3 separate regions of the Homo sapiens genome follow, and all the other regions are linked to region 3. The links come from fine-mapping of genetic effects on gene expression. A gene starts in region 3. Each other region holds a variant in brackets. All regions are shown on one strand. Distances are between the middles of the regions. Region 1 holds the start of LOC105376299 (a long non-coding RNA gene). Region 2 has its middle 4.8 kb from the start of PRRT1B. Region 3 holds the start of POMT1 (protein O-mannosyltransferase 1).

Region 1 (5,223 bases), 180 kb after region 3:
CTGCAGTGAGCTGAGATTGTGCCACTGCACTCCAGCCTGGGTGACAGAGCGAGACCCTGTCTCAAAACAAAAACCAAAAAACTGGCTGGGTACTGTGGCTCACGCCTGTAATCCCAGCACTTTGGGAGGCTGAGGCAGGTGAACTGCTTGAGCTGACGAGTTTGAGACCAGCCTGGGCAACATGGCAAAATGCCGTCTCTACAAAAATTGCAAAAATTAGCTGGGTGTGGTGGTGCATGCCTGTAGTCCCAGCTACGTGGGAGGCAAGACGGGAGGATTGCTTGAGCCCAGGAGGCAGAAATTGCAGTGAGCTGTGTCATGCCACTGCACTCCAGCCTAAGTGACAGAACTAGACCTTGTCTCAAAACAAAAACCAAAAAACTGGTTGGGCATGGGGGCTCATGCCTGTAATCCCAGCACTTTGGGAGGCTGAGGCGGGTGAATTGCTTGAGCTCACAAGTTCGAGACCAGCCTGGGCAACATGGCAAAACGCTGTCTCTACAAAAATTGCAAAAGTTAGCTGGGTGTGGTGGCGCATGCCTGTAGTCCCAGCTACGCGGGAGGCAAGATGGGAGGATTGCTTGAGCCCAGGAGGCAGAAGTTGTAGTGAGCTGTGTCACGCCACTGCACTCCAGCCTGAGTGGCAGAACTAGACCCTGTCTCAAACAAAACAAAACAAACAAAAAACCCAAAAATTAGCCAGGCATGGTGGTGCATGCCTGTCGTCCCAGGCACAGAGGGGACTGAAGTGGGAGGTGGAGGCTGCAGTGAGCTGTGATTGCACCATCGCACTCCAGCCTGGGTGGCAGACTGAGACCCTGTCTGTAAATCAATAAGTAAGAGATTCAGAGACTGGGTAGGAAAAAAAAATTCCAGATTGATGAAGCTTAAAAGAGATCTGCACACACACAAAAAGAGAGCTCACCAAAAATTTAAGGATCCAAAAAGGTTAAAAATAATTTTCAGAGACATAGTTTCACCATGTTGCCCAGGCTGCTCTCCAACTCCTGAGTTTAAGTGATCTGCCCGTTTAACCTCCCAAAATGCTGGGATTACAGGCGTGAGTTACCACGCCTAGCCTATCTATCTATCTATCTATCTATCTATCTATCTATCTATTATATATATATATAAAAAGATATAAAGATATATTTTGATATGAGGCAAAGTTGTCTTATACTTTAAAAGCATTATCAATAATAGAAAGGGTGGGGCCAGGCATGGTGGTTCACACCAAGTAATCCCAGCACTTTGGGATGCTGAGGTGGGAGGTCTGCTTGAGGCCAGGAGTTTGAGACCAGCCTGGGCAACACAGTGAAACTCCTGTCTCTAAAAAAATGAAAAAAAAAAAATTAGCCTGGAATGGTGGCATGCTCGTGTAACCCTAGCTACCTGGGAGGCTGAAGTGGGAGGAACATTTGAGTCAAGGAGTTTGAGGCTGCAGTGGGCTGTGATGGTGCAACTGCACTCCAGCCTGGGTGACAGAGCAAGACTCCGTCTCAAAAAAAAAAAAAAAGAAAAGTCTATCAGTGTTACTTATCGTATTAACTGATGAAAGGAGGAAAAACTACAGGATCATTTTAATAGATGCTGAGGAAGTATTTTTAGAAGTTCACATAAATTTGTGATTAAGCCTCTTGGCAAGTCGGAAATGGGAGGATAAACATTAGCAGCATTCCTTCTGAGACTGGAAACAAGAATGTTCTGTTTGCTATTATCACTTCTGTTCAACAGAGTATTGGAGCTTCCACTCTAACATTAAGACTAGAAAAAATAAATTCGAAACATAAGGATTGGGAAAGAGAAAATAAAACACATTATTTTCAGATACTACCAGCTATATGGAACCCCAGAGGGAGAGTTTGGCAAGATACCTAGATATAAGAAAAATATACAAAAACTAATTTCATTTCTGTATACCAGGAAGAAACAATTGGAAAATATCCTTGAAAAAAAAAGGATAATGTTCACAAGAGTATGAAAATTATAATAAGTACCTAAGAATAAGTATAATGAAACGTAGGCAAGAATTAGGCAGGCAATTATACCTCCACCTCCTGGGTTCAAGCAATTCTCTGCCTCAGCCTCCTGAGTAGCTGGGATTACAGACGCCTGCCACCACGGCTGGCTAATTTTTTTGTATTTTTAGTAGAGACGAGGTTTCACCATCTTGACCAGGCTGGTCTTGAACTCCTGACCTCGTGATCCACCCACCTCGGCCTCCCAAAGTGCTGGGATTACAGGCATGAGCCACCACGCCCGGCCGAGATAACCCATTCTTAAGGACAGGAAAGCCTGATATTACAGAGATGTCAGTTCTTCATAAACTGATCTAGAGACTCAATGTAGCTTCTCGGGAGGCTGAGGTCAGGGGATTGCTTGAGCCCAGGAGTTTGAGATTGCAGTGAACTAGGATCGTGTCACTGCACTCCAGCAGGGGTGACAGGGGGA[G/A]ACCTCATCTCTTAAAAAAAAAAAGCACAAAAAACCATCTTTTTTTTTTTTTTTTTTGAGACGGAGTCTCACTCTGTTGCCCAGGCTGGAGTGCAGTGGCGCAATCTCGGCTCACTGCAAGCTCCGCCTCCCGGGTTCACGCCATTCTCCTGCCTCAGCCTCCCGAGTAGCTGGGACTACAGGCGCCCGCCACCACACCCAGCTAATTTTTTGTATTTTTAGTAGAGACGGGGTTTCACCTTGGTCTTGATCTCCTGACCTCATGATCCACCCACCTCGGCCTCCCAAAGTGCTGGGATTACAGGCGTGAGCCAAAAAAACCATCTTAAAAGCAAACACCTAAAGCAGCATGGCTCATTAATGAGAGTTGTGATGACCCAAAGATTATGATTAATCCACTTCTGGACCTCTGTGGTCTCTTAGCAAGAATTGCAGCTCAGCCACCTCCTGACTCTGCTTAGCGAGCCGAGATGATAACAGCCCACTTGGAGAGTTCGGGGAAGTGTCAACAATGGCCTAGTGGGCTCCCATCAGTGGGAGCTATTCTTACTGTGCTTTGTGCAGGGACTTGAAGCCAGAATGCAAGGGGCCACTGGGCTTTCCCCTTTCCTGGGTGTGGAGTGGGGAACAGCCCGTTACCCCATGAGCCCTCTGAGTCCCACCCTGGTTAAAGCTCATACACTTCATTTCCACAGCCATTTGCAGAGAGCAACCCACCTGCACTCAGCTGTGCTGGTTACAAGTAACCGAAGCCCAGCTCCAACTCTGCAGCCAAAAAGGGAAAGGACTCACCCACTTGAGATGTCCAAGGCTTGAGTCCAGGGATTGAGACGCTGGTCTAGTTGGTTCCTCCCATTTCAGAGAGACCGAAAACCGAAGCTCAGAGAGGTCAAGAGAATTGCCCAAAGTCACACAGACGCCAGTGGGAGGCTGATGCCCCAGCTGGCTCTGCTGACTCCAAAGCCTGGGTTTGGGTTCATCTGCAGGAGGAAACACAGCTGAGTCAAAAGCCCAGTGACTCGGTGGCAGCGCATGTCTTCCAGGAACAGAACAAACACAAGCCCATATCTGCAGGCGAGCCTTGCCTCGGCCTCCACAGCGCGGGTGGTAGAGTCAGGCGCCCCAGGCCCCTGAAAACCAGGACGCAGTCCCGTGGCCCGTCTCTCCCAAGAAACAGAATCCTAGCCGGACCCCGTGCCTGCTGGGCGTGGAGTGGAATGTTGCAGCTGCTTGGGTTTGGGGCAGGAAGGAAGGGGAGATGGAACAAGGTTGAGGGTCTCCGTTCCCCCTGGAGTGCATGGAGGCTTCCTCCTTCTCCCCTTTGAGATCTCAACACAACCCCCCACGTAGATTTTGAATGTGATCATTGAAGAGTGAGGGGCTGCTGATCCCTCCCGTGAGAGACCTGACCTGGCCCCTCTTGGCAAAGCTATCCAGGAACCAGGTCAGAGGCAGAAGGACCTTTGCCCTACAAACTACCCCATCCTTTCCCGGACTCAGAGCCTTGGGCTATACCTGGATGGATTCCCTTGGCCTTTCCACCTGAGGGGCCTGGAGGTTAGGTTGATTCTTGTTTTTTGTTTTTTTGAGACAGAGTCTTGCTCTGTCACCCAGGCTGGAGTGCAGTGGTGCATTCATGGCTCACTGCAGCCTCAACTTCCTGGGTTCAAGCAATCCTCCTACCTCAGCCTCCTGAGTAGCTGGGACTGTAGGTGCATGCCGCCATGCTGGGCTATGTTTTGATTTTTAGTAGAAATGGGGTCTTGCCATGTTGCTCATGCTGGGGTGCAGTGGCACCATCATGGCTGACTGCAGCTGCATGATCTTGCTATGAGTCTAATTATATTTCCCAGGCTGGTCTTGAACTCCTGGACTCAAGGGACCCTCCGGCTTTGGCCCCCTAAAGTGCTGGGATCATAGGTGTGAGCTGGCTTACCTGGCCCAGGATTGATTCTTTTTTTTTTTTTTTTTGAGACGGAGTCTCGCTCTGTTGCCCAGGCTGGAGTACAGTGGTAGGATCACGGCTCACTGCAAGCTTCGCCTCCCGGGTTCATGCCATTCTCCTGCCTCAGCCTCCCGAGTAGCTGGGACTACAGGCACCCGCCACCACGCCCGGCTAATTTTTTTGTACTTTTAGTAGAGACGGGGTTTCACCGTGTTAGCCAGGATGATCTCGATCTCCTGACCTCGTGATCCACCCTCCTCAGCCTCCCAAAGTGCGGGGATTACAGGCATGAGGCACCGTGCCCGGCTCCAGGATCGATTCTTAACTTTGGCTGTACTGAAATCACCTGGGAAGCTTGGAAAACAATCCCCGTGAGGAGCCCACGCCCCACACCAATTACACCCAAACCTCTTCAGGTGGGACCTGAGCTTCTGTATTTAAAAAAAATAATTAAAGCCTTTGCTGTATTCTACGCATCCTGAGAGGGGCCACCTGCTTCCAGGGACCTTCTGTGCAGCATCAGGGTCCCACTATCTACATGGCAGCTGCTGACCGGCACAGGTGTGGGGCTCTGCACACCTCAGATCCCTGACAAAGGAAGGGCGGACTGTGGGGCTGGGCATGCGCAGGGAACACATCAGATGGTGAACAAGCTGAGAGGAGTGTTTCGTTTCCCAGGGCTGTCATAATACAATCCCATAGACTGTGTGGCTCACACAACAGAAATTTTATTTTCTCACAGCTCTGGAGGTTGGAAGTCCAAGATCAAAGTTCAGCAGGTTTGGTTTCACCTGAGGCCTCTCTCCGTGGCTTGCAGATGGCTGCCT
Region 2 (5,223 bases), 38 kb before region 3:
GTCTCAAAAACAAAAGAAAGAAAAAGGAAAAAGAGAAGAATTACAGCAGACATCTCGTTTGAAACTATGCTAGCCAGAATACAATGAGTGATGTATTTGAACTGACGAAAAAACAAAAACAAAAAAAAAACTGTCAACTCAGAATTCTATACCCAGTAAAAATTCATTAAAAAACAAGATTTAAAAAAACCTCTTTAGGCCGGGTGCGGTGGCTCACGCCTGTAATCCCAGCACTTTGGGAGGCCGAGGCGGGTGGATCATGAGGTCAGGAGATCGAGACCATCCTGGCTAACACGGTGAAACCCCATCTCTACTAAAAATACAAAAAATTAGCCAGGCGAGGTGGCGGGCGCCTGTAATCCCAGCTATGCGGGAGGCTGAGGCAGGAGAATGGCGTGATCCCCTGGGGGTGGAGCCTGCAGTGAGCCGAGATCGCGCCACTGCACTCCAGCCTGGGCGACAGCAAGACTCCGTCTCAAAAAAAAAAACCTCTTTAAAAATAAAACAAAAACATTTTAAATTTGCAATATCAAGCCATGAAAAGACATGAAAGGACCTTAAATGAATATTGCTAAGTGAAAGAAGCCAATCTGAAAAGGCTACATATTGTATGATTTCAACTAGATGATGTTCTGGAAAAAGGAAAACTATGGAAGATCAATGGTGAACAGTGGTTAGGGAGAGGAAGAGATGAATAGCAGAAAGGATTTTTAGGGCAGTGAAACTACTCTGTATAATACTATAGGCTGGGTGCAGTGGCTCATACCTGTAATCCCAGCACTTTGGGAGGCCGAGGTGGGCGGATCATTTGAGGTCAGGAGTTTGAGACCAGCCTGGTCAACATGGCAAAACCCCATCTCTACCAAAAATACAAAAATTAGCCAGACGTGGTGGCAGGTGCCTGTAATTCCAGCTACTTAGGAGGCTGAGGCAGGAGAATTGCTTGAATCCTGGAGGTGGAGGTTGCAGTGAGACGAGATCATGCCACCACACTCCAGCCTGGGCAACAGAGTGAGACTCCGTCTCAAAAACAATAATAATATCATGGTGAATACATGTTATTATAAATTTTTCCAAATGCATAGAATGTACAGCAAGAGTGAGCTCTAATGTAGCGATGGACACTGGTGATAATGGTGTGTCCATATAGGTTCACTGATTGCAACAAATGTACCACTCTGGTGTGGGGTGTTGAAAATGAGGGAGACTGTGAATGTGAGGGTAGGGAGTATATGGGAAAATCTTTGCACCTTCAGTTCAATTTTTCTGTGAACCTAAAACTGCTCTAAAAAGATAAAGTCTATTACAATTCTTTTTTAAAAAGAAAAATAGGCCGGGTGCGGTGGCTCACGCCTGTAATCCCAGCAGTTTGGGAGGCAGAGGTGGGCGGATCACGAGGTCAAGAGATCAAGACCATCCTGGCTAACACGGTGAAACCCCGTCTCTACTAAAAATACAAAAAATTAGCCGGGTGTGGTGGCGGGTGCCTATGGTCCCAGCTACTCGGGAGGCTGAGGCAGGAGAATGGCGTGAACCCGGGAGGTGGAGCTTGCAGTGAGCCGAGATTGTGCCACTGCACTCCAGCCTGGGCGACAGAGCGAGACTCCATATCAAAAAAAAAAAAAAAAAAAGAAAAATAATTTCTCATCCAAAACAAACAAAAACAACAGAGGAAGTTCATTCAGGCAGAAGAAATAAAAAAACTAAAGCAAAGGCCAGGTGCGTGGCTCATGCCTGTAACTGCAGCACTTTGGGAGCTCAAGGTAAGCAGATCACTTGAGGTTGGGAGTTCAAAACCAGCCTGGCCAACATGGTGAAACCCCATCTCTTCTAAAAATAAATAAATAAATAAAATACAGGCATGGTGGTGGGTGCCTGTAATCCCAGCTACTTGGGAGGCTGAGGCAGGAGAATTGCTCAAACCCAGGAGGCAGAGGTTGCAGTGAGCTGAGATCATGCCACTGTACTCCAGCCTGGGTGACAGAGCAAAACTCCATCTCAAAAAAAAAAAAAGGAAAACAAAAAAACGCTAAAGCAAAAATAGTAGGAATTTATTTGTGTTTATAGCATACTAAAAAATAAATCAGGCTAGGCACAGTGGCTCATGCCTGTAATCCCAACACTTTGGGAGGCGGAGGCGGGTGGATTCCTTGAACTCAGGAGTTCAAGACCAGTCTGGGCAACATGGCAAAACCCTGTCTCTACAAAAAATACAAAAACTAGCTGGGCATGGTGGTGTGTGCCTATAGTCCCAGCTACTTAGGAGGCTGAGGTAGGAGGATCACCTGAGCATGGGAGGCAGAGGCTGCAGTGAGCTGAGATCGCATTGAGCCACTGCATTCCAGCCTGGGAGACAGAGTGGGACCCTGTTCAAAAAATTAATTAATTCATTAATTATGTGACACAATAGAACAAGTGATGGGAGGGGTTGGCGCTGCACTGCTGTAAAGCTATTACACTATGCACCAGCAATATAACATTATTTGAAGATAAACAGATTAATTAAATACATATGTCATAAACCCTAGGGCAATCACTAGATTTTTATTGAAAAGATCTCAACAATAATGTAATAGAGGAGATAAATGGAACCATAAACAATTTTCAATTAACCCATGAGGAATTAGAAAAAGAGGAAACATCAATTCAAGCACAGATAGAACAAATAGAAAAGAGCATGACTAGGGCTATGGTGAGGCCAGTGAGGTCCTGAGATGCAAAATGTAAGGGTTACTCACTTTCAGGACCACACATGTGCAGAATTCAGCACTCGTGTGAATCCGAGAGTTTACAGCCAAGAATCCTGGCCGACGGCACTGGAGCCAGGTGGTCAAGGTGAGCACCACCAGGAATAACTAGAGATGGGCTTGGTGCCTATGTTACCCAGGCTGGTCTTGACTCCTGGGCTGCAGTGATCCACCCACCTTGGCTACTCAAAGTGCTGGGATTACAGGTATGAGCTATTGCATCCAGCCTCTACAAAAGATGTTTTTTTTTTTTTTTATTGAGACAGAGTCTAGCTGTGTCACCCAGGCTGGAATACAGTGGCATGATCTAAGCTCACTGCAACCTCTGCCTCCTGGGTTCAAGCAATTCTCCTGCATCAGCCTCCCGAGTAGCTGGGATTACAGGTGTC[T/C]GCCACCACACCTGGCTAATTATTGTATTTTTTGTAGAGATGGAGTTTTGCCATGTTGGCCAGGCTGGTCTCGAAATCCTGACCTCAGATGATCCGCCTGCCTCAGACTCCCAAAGTGCTGGGATTATAAGCATGAGTGCCTGGCTGGCCAGCCTACTCTTTAACTCCTGGCCCCAAGTGATCCGCCTGCCTAGCCTCCTAAAGTCCTGGGATTACAGGCATGAGCCACTGCAACAGGCCCCTACAAAACATTTTGATGTCTTTATTTTTTATGATTAGAATTTTCACTTGGTTCTTTAAAAAAGTCTACAATTTTTGCCAGACACAGTGGCTAACATTTTTAATCCCAGCAACTTGGGAGGCTGAGGCAGGAGGATTGCTTGAGGCCAGGAGTTCAAGACCAGCCTGGGCAACATAGAAAGGCCCTTTCTCTAAAGTAAATTTAAAAATGAGCCAGGTGTGGTGGCACCCACCTGCGGTCTCAGATACTCAGGAAGCTGAGGCAGGAGGATCACTTGAGCCCAGGAAATTGAGGTTAGCAATGAGCTATGATCGTGCCACTGCACTCCAGCCTGGGTGACAGGGCAAGATCCTGTCTCTAAAAACATAAAATAAATATAGAAATAAAATGAAAATCTACAACTTTAATGTTTTTTTGCTTTGCTTTCTCCTCAAATGGCTTCTATTAATTATTTCAAACTCATAGAAAAAGTTGCAAGAATAGTAGAAAGAAGAGCCATGTCACCTGGTGTGTTATGGGCTATATTGTGTCCCCTGCCATGTTCGTATGTTGAAGTCCTAACCCCCAGTGCCTCAGTGTGTGACTGTATTTGGAGACAGAGCCTCTGCAGAGGTGATGAAAGCTAAGTGAGCTCATAAGCGTGGATCCTAATTGAATAGGACTGGTGTCCTTATAAGAAGAGGAAGAGGCCAGGCGCGGTGGCTCACGCCTGTAATCCCAACACTTTGGGAGGCTGAGGCAGGCAGATTACCTGAGGTCAGGAGTTTGAGACCAACCTGAGCAACATAGCGAAACCCTGTCTCTACTAAAAATAGAAAAATTAGCCAGGCGTGGTGGTGCACACCTGTAATCCCAGCTACTCGGGAGGCTGAGGCAGGAGAATCGCTTGAACCCAGGTGGCAGGGGTTGCAGTGAGCCGAGATTGTGCCACTGCACTCCAGCCTGGGTGACAGAGCAAGACTCCGTCTCAAAAAAAAAAAAAAAAAAAAAAAAACAAGAGGAAGGGGCTGGGCACAGTGGCTCATGCCTGTAATCCCAGCACTTTGGGAGGCCGAGGCGGGCGGATCACCTGAGGTCAGGAGTTCAAGACCAGCCTGGCCAACATGGTGAAACCCCGGGCGTGATGGCGGGTGCCTGTAATCCCAGCTATTCGGGAGGCTGAGGCAGAAGAATCGCTTGAACCTGGGAGGCGGAGGTTGCAGTGAGCCGAGATCACGCCATTGCATTCTAGCCTTGGCGGCAGAGCGAGACCCCGTCTCAAAAAAAAAAAAAAAAGCTGAAGAGGGAAGAGACCCCAGGGGTGTGCGGACACAGTGACAACCGCATGAAGAGTCAGTGAGGGAGGAGCAGCCGTCTTCCGTGGAAACCAACCCTGCACCTTGACGTTGGACTTCTAACCTGCAGAACAGGGAGGAAATACATTTCTTTTTTGAGACGGAGTCTCACTCTGTCACCCAGGCTGGAGTGCAGTGGCGCGATCTCGGCTCACTGCAAGCTCCACCTCCCGGGTTCACACCATTCTCCTGCCTCAGCCTCCCGAGTAGCTGGGACTACAGGCGCCCACCACCACGCCCGGCTAATTTTTTATATTTTTAGTAGAGACGGGTTTTCACCGTGTTAGCCAGGATGGTCTCTATCTCCTGACCTCATGATCCGCCCACCTCGGCCTCCCAAACTGCTGGGATTACAGGCGTGAGCCACCGTGCCCGGCCCCTGAGGAAACAGATTTCTGTTGTCAAAGCCACTCGGCCCGTAGCACTTTGTGACGGCGGCAGGAGCGGACTCATCATCGCCCCGTAGCCCTTGCACAGACCCCTCAGCGGCTCACATTTTGCACTCTTTGCTT
Region 3 (5,223 bases):
GGGGGTCATTCATTATACTTGTCTCCCTGCTTTTGTATATGTTTGACGTTTTCCATAATAAAAAGTTAAACAAAAAAGAACATGCAGCAGGGCGGAGTGGCTCACGCCTGTAATCCTAACACTTTGGGAGACCCAGGTGGGTGGATCATGAGGTCAGGAGTTCAATACCAGCCTGGCCAAGATGGTGAAATCCCGTCTCTACTAAAAATACAAAAATTAGCTGGGTGTGGTGGCGGGCACCTGTAATCTCAGCTACTCGGGAGGCTGAGGCAGAGAATTGCTTGAACCCAGGAGGCAGAGGTTGCAGTGAGCCGAGATGGCACCACTGCACTCCAACCTGGGCGACACAGCAAGACTCCGTCTCAAAAACACACACACACACACACACACACACACACACACACATACACACATTAATCAGTTAATAAAGAGCCCTTCAATAATAACAGCAATCACTTCCCATTATGACAAAAACACATTCTAAAAAGTGCTCTCAACAGTGAAGACTTACTTCCAAATCCATTAATCCTCTGCCGTCCAGACTTTAAAACTGTTACTTAAGGCTGGCAACCAGATTTTCCTCTACTGCACCCCTTTAATGGGCCAAATTTCACCTGTTACAGACTCAGAAGGCAAGACCTAAAAGGTGTACTCTGCTGGGGCTGTCCTGGGGACAGACTGGTCTCTCCTCTCACTGCCAAAAACACCTATCACCAAGAAGCCAGGATTTCACTCTCCCATTTATGCTATTCAGTAAGGGCGCCTCCTGTCACAAAGTACAATTCTAGATTCACCCTGGGAATGGAGTCATTTAGCTTACACCACAGCCCGCGGGTAGGTGAGTCGCCACAGCCGGCTCAGTAACCCCATCCCAGTCAGGGCCACAAGGCTCAAGTTGATGTCAGCCGTCACCACTACAGGGCGCTTCAAAAATCCCCACATCTTGTAGAAAAGCGGGCTCAGGCAGACGCCCTAGAAAAGAAGGGAGGAGCCGTGGTCCATGAGGGCTCACGAGAGGCTACAGAAGGGATCCCCAGCCACCCGGCTCCCGGACACACGAGGAGAACCACAGCACAGCCGGGCTGCTGAGAAAGACCGAAGTTCCTGGAGCCTTGGTTCAGGTAGACATGTGGGGTGAGGGGCACTAGCAGTGAACTCGGGTGGGAATTCAGGGGATCTCAGGACTGGACATTCACTCCTTTCAACAACTCATTCCACAAAACCTGCCGAGCACGTCTTGGGCGCGAGAACACTGCTAAGGAACGCCAGGGTTTCTCCCCTCCCTCCCCGACGACCAGAAGCCCACAGTGCGGCCACAGCTACCTGACCCTGGGCAGCTCCTGGGTGCCATCTCAGCTGCTTACAGCCCAGGGACCCCAACCTGGCCGAGCCTCGGGGCCTCCTCATCTCTCCTCAAGGATGCATCTGCCCCCAGTGCCTCCCTGCCTTCTATCCCAGCGGCACATCATCCCCGGGTGCTCCCTTTCTCGCCTGGAGGGTGCATTTGCACCCTGCGCCCCCACGTTCTCCTCCAGGCTTCATCTTCCCTTGAGCTCCGCTTCTCTTGAGGCTGCATCAGGCCTGGGACACCCTGTCTCACACCAAAGCCGCATCTGGCCGTTGGCGCCCCGCTGGTCTCCTCAGGCCCCATCTACCCTGGACGCGCCCTTCCCTCCCTGAGCTGCATCTGCCTTGAGCGCCTTCGTCCCAAAAGGTCCCATCTGTCCTGGGAGTGCCTCCTCTCCCCTTGCAGACCGCATCTCCCTGGCCGGCCCTTCTTCCCCACAGGCCGCACCTGTCCCGTCCACCAACTCCCGAGGCTGCGTCGGCCCCAGCTCCGTCCTCACCCTGAGACTGCACCCGCAGCACGCCCTTCCTCCCTAGGGCTGCACGCGCCACGGAGTTCTTACTTCGGGGCTCGGCCGCCCGAACGCCGCATCTGCCCGGGCCCGAACCCCGCCCCCAGCTCCGGAAAGACGGGGACGCCCCCGGCCCCAGCCCGTCCGCAAGCCAGGGACCCGCGTCCGGCACTGACGGACTCCCCCAAGTCCGGGCTGGGCTCTCGTCCCCGGTGTCCCCAAATGTACCCGCGTTTCTCCGAGTCCACACAGAGCCGCGCCCGGCTCCCGGCAACGCCTCGGAACCGTCCGACTGGGCCGACGGTTGGGGGTGAGGCCGCTCGGCACTCCGCACCACCCACCGCCCTGCTCAACGTTCGATTCACCGAGCCTGCGGGGCCAGACGGGCAGCAGCGCGCGTGCGCACTGGGAGAGGGTGACGCGCGTGCGCAGCGGGCGAGGGCGCCGGTCCCGGAGGAGAGGCAGGTGTGAAACGCGGCGACCTCCCCTCTCTCGGGTGCTACTGTTTTGTGTGCCAGGATTTCTGTGTACTCTAAGCAGACGTGCAGATTTTAAAAAGCGCAGTGGGCTCCCACCCATCTTCTGCTCCTTGCTTTTTCACTCCATCTGGCGTGAAGATCTTAATTCTGCGTCTGCACAACGGCGTTCTGCCGGGCGCGCCAGTTTGCTCCTAGTTTTTTTCTTTTCTTTTCTTTTCTTTTTTTTTGAGACGGAGTTTCGCTCTTGTTGCCCAGGCTGGAGTGCAATGGCGCGATCTCGGCTCACCGCAACCTCCGCTTCCCGGGTTCAAGCGATTCTCCTGCCTCAGCCTCCCGAGTAGCTGAGATTGAAGGCGCACGCCACCACGCCCGGTTAATTTTTGTATTTGTAGTAGAGACAGGGTTTCACCATGTTGGCCAGGCTGGTCTCGAACTCCTGACCTGAAGTGATCCGCCCACCTCGGCCTCCCAAAGTGCTGGGATTACAGGCGTGAGCCACTGCGTCCGACCTTAATTTTTTTTTTAAGACACGGGGTCTCGCTCTGTCGCCCAGGCTGGAGTACAGTGGCAGGACCACGGCTTGCTGCAGCCTCGACCTCTCTGCCCGAAGCGATCCTCCCTCCTCGGCCTCCAGAGCAGCTGAGACCACAGGCACGTGCCCCCACGCCCGCGGGCGCTCCTAGTTTCCTTGCCGAAAAACATCGATGCCACGATCCTGCTTGCACATACATCTAGCGGTGAAGTGGCTGAGGGTAAGGGCATTTAAAACGGACCTAGGGCCGGGGGCGGTGGCTCACGCCTGTAACCCCAGCACTTTGGGTGGCCGAGGTGGGAGGATCCGTGAGCCCGCTTGAGTCCAGGAGAGCCTGGGCAACACAGCGAGACCCCGTCTCTACAAAAAAATACAAAAATTAGCGGGGCCCCTTGGCGTCTGCCTGCAGTCCCAGCTACAAGGGAGGCTGAGGCAGGAGATCACTTGGGGCAGAGAGGTCGAGGCTGCAGTGAGCCTTGGTCTCACCACTGCACTCCAGCCTGGACTACAAAGTGAGACCGTCTCAAAACAAAAAACAAAACCAAAAAAACCTGGACATCAGTGGGGGCTGCATGACCATCAGAGGCTCCAGTGGGGGCATCTCCCCTAAACTCCGTGGCAGAAGACTGGAGGCTTCTTCCTCCATTCCCAGGGCTCCTCCTCATCCATCAGCCTCTCCAGCCCCCTCTGCTGAGGGTCAAGAGCCTTCCCAAAGGCCTGCTTTGGAGCAGACATGGTACTTTTGGTTGGGTCAATGCACCCCTTCCCATGTTTTCCCTGAACAGTCGGCACCCAGAGCAGGGTAACTGACAGCAACGCAACCAGGCTGATGGATCACTCTTCTCAGCCTCGCTCCTTCTTGATCTCCTGGTCTATTTGTATGTTAATCTATACAGACCAAAAGGGCACACTGCAGGTTTAATAACCTTCATTATGGTTCTTGGCTGCCTGCAAGACTTTTTTTCCATGTTGGGCAACATAGCATTAGATGACACCAGTTAGAATTTCGTGGTTACTTCTTTATGGCTTACCCTTGAGGGGTTATGTGACTCACCCAAGATCCCACAGAGAGGCAAGGAGCTGGGGCTCACCTGGGTTTGTGGCCAGAGCCTGCAGGCAACTGTATTTACAGTGGGCAGGGAGGGTTCCCTGGGCCCCAGGAGGGAGTGGGGCTGGGCTGTTAAGCTTTGGTTCATGCCATGCTAACAGTGGTGGTGCCTCAGGACTTACAGCCTCCATCTTGCAAGCCCCCAACCTTAGGACTAGCCTCTTTCAGGGCTGGTCTCCGTTTGAGATTTTGTGAGCCACCTGTCCCTAGGGAGCAGTAAATCAGGGCAGTGAGTGTGGCTAGTTAAAGCTGAGATGCCCATGGCCAGGTCCCCAACTCTCTTCCATAGTCAAAAGGCTTAGAAGGAAGTTGAGGGACTGGGGTTCCTCATGGAAACAGCGTTTTATTTCTTGGGGGTAATTTATAAGTTTTCTTAGCTGGTTCTAGGCACTAAGCTAAAAGCTACTGGTGACTTTGAATCCACACTACGCCATGAGGTCGATACCATTACAATCTGTGTTTTATGATTAAGGAGACTGACTCAGGTGGTGAAACGTCTTTCCCCAGGTCAGTGAGGCAATGGCAAAACCGAGAACTGCTGCCTCAGCCCATTCTTACCTTTTACCCTTCGCTACCCCAGGCCTGGCTTGCTCCCTCCCCACCCCAAAGCACAGCATAATCCTCCTCCACTTCCTGCAAAAGCACCGCTAGAAGTGACAACACAACACGCCACATCAAATGCTTACCTCCTCTGACCAGCTCGTTTCTCACGGCAAGTGACGGGGCCACAGGCAGGCACTGTGCACAACCAGATGCCATCCGTGGGAAGAGGGTGGAGTGCTTGATGCTGCCGCATTTGGAAGATGCTTCTTAGCCACGGGTTTCAATCCCTTCTCTACCCACACAGCTTCTGTTAAGGCATTTCAGCCGTGCCACTCCTAATTTCCGTGTGAACTCTGTAAAATTAGAATTCTTTGATCTGTAGGTCTCTCTGGTCAAATGACCAAGAAACGAGGGATGTACAACCTGAGAAAGCACGTTCAGCTTTATCTTTTTAAACTTTTTTTATTTAAATAAGGAGAATTCTTTCATATGGAAAGAGCTAGTACAATCACATATTTGAAAGGAGAAACAATAGGTACTGAACCGGAGGGAAAGGGCGAGGGTGAGTGTGCCAGCACCGGCCTGGTGAATCCACGATTCGATTTCCCATCCAAGGTAAGTTTCCCAAAATACCGTATAAACAAGCTGCACATTACACCTCTAGCCATCGTCTGCCCTTTCAAATATCTGGTCTACATGGAA

Evidence for each region. PIP is the estimated chance that this variant, and not a neighbour inherited with it, causes the effect.
Region 1: its variant is fine-mapped to the expression of POMT1 in whole blood (INTERVAL, PIP 0.98).
Region 2: its variant is fine-mapped to the expression of POMT1 in whole blood (TOPMed, PIP above 0.99).

What each region holds. Positions count from the first base shown.
Region 1 is chr9:131,323,660-131,328,882 of GRCh38, reverse strand. LOC105376299 (a long non-coding RNA gene) reads right to left here and starts at 4,013. Exons shown (of 4, transcript XR_001746959.3): 1 at 3,244-4,013. The variant G/A (reference allele first, on the strand shown) is at 2,452.
Region 2 is chr9:131,538,145-131,543,367 of GRCh38, reverse strand. No RefSeq gene overlaps it. Among named protein-coding and RNA genes, the nearest start is that of PRRT1B, 4.8 kb to the left of the region's middle. The variant T/C (reference allele first, on the strand shown) is at 3,137.
Region 3 is chr9:131,499,938-131,505,160 of GRCh38, reverse strand. POMT1 (protein O-mannosyltransferase 1) reads right to left here and starts at 2,243. Exons shown (of 20, transcript NM_001077365.2): 1 at 2,088-2,243; 2 at 821-972. The coding sequence starts at 942. It overlaps PRRC2B (proline rich coiled-coil 2B), which reads right to left. Exons shown (of 32, transcript NM_013318.4): 32 at 4,968-5,223. It also overlaps the pseudogene LOC124902290. RefSeq lists enhancers at 653-722, 733-812, 1,293-1,352, 724-1,589, 1,590-2,457 and 1 more and silencers at 1,923-2,072, 2,143-2,342.